2 separate regions of the Homo sapiens genome follow, and region 1 is linked to region 2. Evidence: fine-mapped expression QTL. A gene starts in region 2. The other region holds a variant in brackets. All regions are shown on one strand. Distances are between the middles of the regions.

Region 1 (2,920 bases), 22 kb after region 2:
CCTTTGCCTTCTGGGTTCAAGTGATTCTCCTGCCTCAGCCTCCTGAGTAGCTGGGATTATAGGCGCCCACCACCATGCATGGCTAATTTTTGTATTTTTAGTAGAAATGGGGTTTCATCATGTTGGCCAGGCTGGTCTCGAACTCCTGACCTCAACTGATCCTCCCGCCTCGGCCTCCCAAAGCACTGGGATTACATGCATGACCCACCGTGCCGGCCAAAAGAACCTTTAAAAGGCAGTCTTTTACTGGCAAGGTGCTTCTTGTCTTCAGAGGTAAAACGTCCATGGAGCCAATCCAGACAAAGATTTCTTATTGTCCAGGACTTCTTGTAGTTAACAACCAAAACAGTGGCAGCTGATGTTTATCTTCTCCCTTCAAGGCTCGGGGATTAGCAGCCAGCAGCTTTATAGGTAAGAGCAGTCCTGATCATAAACTGACTGCATTTGCACAAAACAGTAGAGATAGCCTGCTCTTTCTTGCCTTAAATCCTGGTGCTTGCTTCTCTTCTTTACTAATAAGTGACTTTGTGGCATTAATTTCCAAAATCGGGTACTTCTGTCTGCATTAAAAACCTGTTAAGGCAGATACACTTTCTCCTCAATGATTTTCTTTTCTTTCTTTCTTTTTTTTTTTTTTTTTTTTTTTTTTTTGAGACGGAGTCTCCCTCTGTCGCCCAGGCTGGAGTGCAGTGGCCTGATCTCAACTCACTGCAAGCTCCGCCTCCCGGGTTCACGCCATTCTCCTGCCTCAGCCTCCCGAGTAGGTGGGACTACAGGCGCCCGCCACAACGCCCGGCTAATTTTTTGTATTATTATTATTATTGTTATTATTTTTGGACGGAGTTTCACTCTTGTTGCCCAGGCTGGAGTGCAATGAAGGGATCTTGGCTCACCGCAGCCTCCGCCTCCTGGGTTCAAGCGATTATCCTGCTTCAGCCTCCTGAGTAGCAGGGATTACAGGCATGTGCCACCACGCCCGGCTAATTTTGTATTTTTAGTAGAGATGGGGTTTCTCCATGTTAGTCAGGCTGGTCTTGAACACCCGACCTCAGGTGATCCGCCCGCCTTGGCCTCCCAAAGTGCTGGGATTACAGGTATGAGCCACTGCGCCCGGCCTTTTGTATTTTTAGTAGAGATGGGGTTTCACCGTGTTAGCCGGGATGGTATCTTCAATGATTTTCTTAATGACGCCTGGGAACTTGCCTGTTGCCTCTTGGTCAATAGAAGCTGCTTCTCTTGTTATCTTGACATTTTAAAAGCCAAACTTTTATTCTAAATTATCAAACTATCCTTTGCTGGTATTAAATTCTCCAGCTTTAGACCCTTCACCTTCCATTTGCTTTACGTTGTCATATAATGACTTTGCTTTTTCTTGAATAATATTAGTCTATAAGTATCCCTTTCTTACAGCAATTCTTACACCTGCATAAAAGCTGCATTTCCGATATGAGATGAAAAGGTCTTTCACAAAAAATGTGAGGTTTTTGCATCTGTTGGCATAGCTGCAGTGACAGCTTTACGAATTTTCTTTTCTTTTCTTTCTTTTTTTTTTTTTT[A/TTTTA]CAATCGTTCTTATACTGGATTCATTTATCTTGATATGGCGGGCAACTGCAGCAGCAGACCTTAATCTACAGTATATATCAAGCAATTCAGCTTTTTCTTGTAATGTCATGAGTTTTCTCTGCTTCTTGAGAACTCTTACCGCATCACTAGTGGCACTTCGTATGGGCCCCATGGTGTTATTCAAGGTTTACAGTAGTGCACAAAACACGATAAAAGCTGGGTGCAGTGGCTCATCCCTCTAATCCCAGTACTTTGGGAGGCTGAGGCTGGTGGATTGCTTGAGCTCAGGAGTTTGAGACCAGACTGGGAAACATGGCGAAACCCCGTCTCTACAAAACAATACAAAAATTAGCTGAGTGTGGTGGCATGTGCTTGTAGTCCCAACTACAGTTAATTTTATGCAGTTATGATTTAATACTGCATTTTTACATTTGTTTATATGTCTCTGTGAATGGCACATGTGTGGTCTGTTTGTGTATGTATGTTTTGATAAATTTTAACTTTTTGTGATAGGTGTGTGCATATTTTATGGTAGTAAATGATAAAATAGACTAATACCTATATATTTTGTGCATTTAAGGCATACCTAACTTTTTAATTTTTTCAATATTTCTAGCCTATGCAGTTTGTCTGAGTTTTTTCAAATTGTTGAAAACCTCCAAACGCTTTTCTAATATATATATTGAAAAAAAATCTGTATATAAGTGGACCTATGCACTTCAAACCTGTGTTGTTCAAGGGTCAACTGTAGTTTGAAATTGCTCTCTGTCAGTTTTTTTTGGGGTTCTTTTCACTATAAGGTGGTGGTTGCAAGATAAATGATGACATTAACCATGTATTGTAAACATCTAAATGGATTTACAACAATCAGACTTTTTCCTTAATTTTATGTGCAATATGTTTTTACACATCAGCACCCTATAAAAGGTAAAGTAGTTTGAAGAATTTATAGCTTGTGATGTTTTATATGAATATTGGCTCTTAATTATATTAATTTTTGAAGGGTTTTAATATTGAAGACAGAGATCTAGAGTATGACAGGAGTCTAATTTTTTTTTCATTTATTTACTCATTCATCCATTTATTTTTACACCAAAAATGGTCCTGAATGGGAGGGATAGGTGATGGACAAGACTTACTCTTGCTCCTTGAAGAACTCCTTACTTTACATATAAGCACATCTATGAACACATAAGTAGAACCGTGTGATAACTTTGGTTAGAAGCATACACAGTGAGTGGGAAGCATAGCAGAGAGAGCCACACACAGCCTGGAAGGAATTGGGAGAGAGCTTCTTGGAGGAGGTGAACTTCAAGTAAGGCCTCAAAGAATGAGTAGGAGTTGGCCAGGTGCATGAAAGTGG
Region 2 (2,920 bases):
CATGATTCCATCTCCAATCTGACCAATTAGCACTCCCACTTCCCAAGCCCCTACCCGCCAAATTATCTTTAAAAATTCTGATCTCCGAATCCTGGGGAGACTGTGTTGAGTAATAATAGAACTCCGGGCTGGGCGCGGTGGCTTATGCCTGTAATCTCAGCACTTTGGGAGGCTGAGGCAGGTGGAATCACTTGAGGTCAGGAGTTCCAAACTAGCCTGGCCAACATGGTGAAACCCTGTCTCTGCTAAAATACAAAAATTAGCCGGGCGTGGTGGCGGGCGCCTGTAGTCCCAGCTACTGGGGAGGCTGAGGCAGGAGAATCGCTTGAACCTAGGACGGGGAGGCTGCAGTGAGCCGAGATCATGCCACCGCACTCCAGCCTGGGCCACAGACAGAGACTCCGTCTCAAAACAAAACAAAACAAAACAAACAAACAAACAAAACAAAAAACTCCGGTCTCCTGCACAGCCAGCTCTGCGTGAATTACTCTTTCTCCATTGCGATTCCCCTGTCTTGATAAATCGGCTCTGTCTAGACAGCGGGCAAGGTGAACCCACTGGGCAATTACAATGTCACTCAAGGTCTGAAATGGAATGTTTAATATTTTCAATTACATTAAAGAGAAGAAAAAAAGTAAAAAACAGGAAAACAAAAAACAAAATAAAAACAAAGATTGTTAAAAATTCAATTACATTGTCTTTTCCTAGCCCTAAAATTTTTCTTTTGCAAAAGAGTCTTGTGAAACAGATTAAAGGCTTAAAAAGAAACAAAACTCCTAAATTTCAGGGGTAATTTGCAAAATAAAAGATTTCTTTTGCATTATATCATTCACACTGCAGAAAGGTTTCGGTTCTATGCAATCTGATCTTTTTCCACTTTTTAAAAGTTAATTTGCTTTTACTTAGCACTATTATAGAACAGGTATTTTCAAATAGTTTTGCAATTAAACACAAAAACTATAATTTTTGTGGCGAAGTAGGTACTAGTTGGCAAACACTGTTCCTTAGTGTAAAACAGAATTCTAAGTTTTCAGAAATGGAGTCCTAAAACTAGCACTGGTCTTGCAAATCAAGTTCTGCAGCTTAGTTTGGGAAAGGTTCCCTTTTGGCTCAAGGCTTAACTGGCTCCACCCAGCTGCTGAAATGTGATACAAGTTGTAACAAAACCGGAAGTTGGTTAGGCTGCCTTCGCTTCTCAAGGTAAGTGTCACGTCTTTTTCCTTAATGTCAAAGCTCTTTGTAAAGCGTTAAAAATCAAATCCAGCTTAGCGACAGACTGGAGAGCGAGTGCCTGTGCTGACCAGGGCAGTCGGCCAGGCAGAACGGGTGCTGTATTCCGAAACTATGTTCTGGAGCTTGAATTGAGCTAATGAGTGTTCACTAACGAGTTAGGTTAATATGTCCTGTGACTTTGACTAACAAGCTTTAATTCCAAGATATGGGTGGTTATAAGTAGAGACGTGTTTGGGATCCTGAAAATCATTGACTTTATTCTTGCAGGAGTTTTTTTTTTGTTTTTAATTTTAAATTTAAAACTGTAGGAACTCTTTTTTTATATTTAAAGCTAGTGGCATGGTTACCTATATCAGGGTCACTTAGAACCTTATTTGGTTTTTAAAGTGGCTTTTTATCTAGAACTTTTAGTCCCCTTACCCTCCCACTCCCTAGCCCTGGTGTGTCGTTAAAATTTCAGAAAGACTCCAGGGTGGCAAGGTGTTATCACTGCACTTATTTTTGTGTGTGCTTGTCATACTGCCCTAAAGGGTAAAGGGGATTTTTCAAATTGTAAATGTGTTATTAGGAATATTTCTTAACATAGCTAAACTTTTCAGTTCAGATATTTTCATTTGCTTCTGTATTTTTATTTTTTATTTTTATTTATTTATTTATTCATTTATTTTTGAGACGGAGTCTCGCTCTGTCCGCCAGGCTGGAGTGCAGTGGCGCGATCTCGGCTCACTGCAAGCTCCGCCTCCCGGGTTCAAGCGATTCTTCTGCTTCAGCCTCCTGAGTATACTGCTGGGATTACAGGCGCCCGCCACCACGCCCGGCTAATTTTTTGTATTTTTAGTAGAGACGGGGTTTCACTGTGTTGGCAAGGATGGTCTCTATCTCCTGACCTCGTGATATGCCCGCCTCCGCCTCCCAAAGTGCTGGGATTACAGGCTTGAGCCACCGCGTCTGGCCTATTTATTTATTATTTTCGAGACGGAGTGTTGCTCTTGTGGCCCAGGCTGGAGTGCAACGGCGGGATTTCGGCTCACTGCAACCTCTGCCTCCCGGGTTCAAGCAATTCTCCTGCCTCAGCCTCCTGAGTAGCTGGGATTACAGGCAGGCACCACCACACCCGGCTAATTTTGTATTTTTAGTAGAAACGGGGTTTCTCCATGTTGGTCAGTCTGGTTTCGAACTCCCAGCGTCAGGTCATCTGCCTGCCTCGGCCTCCCAAAGTGCTGGGATTACAGGCGTGAGCCACCGCGCCCAGCCACTTCTGTATTTTTAAAAAAGTGGTAAGATTTGAGTATTATACTGGGATAGAACTGAAGTTGGGGGCTTAATTTGATCTATCAGCTTATTGAAAACAAAGACCTTTTAAGAGATGGTTTTGTTAGGTTGGAGAAGTGAGTTTTAGTTCGTCATTTAGTTAGCCAGTATGTTGATTTTTTTGGTGAAGTGTACTCTCTGTTTCACACCTGTCAGCTTTTTTAATATTGGATTTTCTCAAAATTCACATAACAATCACACTGTATGAGTACTGTTTTGAAGGTTGTCTGCTAGTCAGAATGAATGGAGATCAATGTGTAGGACACCTTTACTGATATCCAGAGGTTTACCAAAAGACAAGTCACCAAATGTGGCAGAAAAACATGATAAAATTTATTAGGAAAAACTAAAGCTTATGGAGTGAACAGTTATTTCA

Which allele goes with the higher level. Alleles are on the strand shown, and positions count from the first base shown. SD is a standard deviation of normalised expression in the study named.
As copies of A replace TTTTA in region 1, the expression in monocytes after LPS of the gene that starts at base 1,172 in region 2 goes down (large effect, 0.76 SD a copy in Quach 2016).

Evidence for each region.
Region 1: its variant is fine-mapped to the expression of FRRS1 in monocytes after LPS (Quach 2016, PIP 0.95).

Annotation. Positions count from the first base shown.
Region 1 is chr1:99,742,701-99,745,620 of GRCh38, reverse strand. The region is part of intron 4 of FRRS1 (ferric chelate reductase 1); the gene reads left to right. Among named protein-coding and RNA genes, the nearest start is that of FRRS1, 22 kb to the left of the region's middle. RefSeq lists a silencer at 214-508. The variant A/TTTTA (reference allele first, on the strand shown) is at 1,557.
Region 2 is chr1:99,764,887-99,767,806 of GRCh38, reverse strand. FRRS1 (ferric chelate reductase 1) reads left to right here and starts at 1,172. Exons shown (of 17, transcript NM_001361041.2): 1 at 1,172-1,200.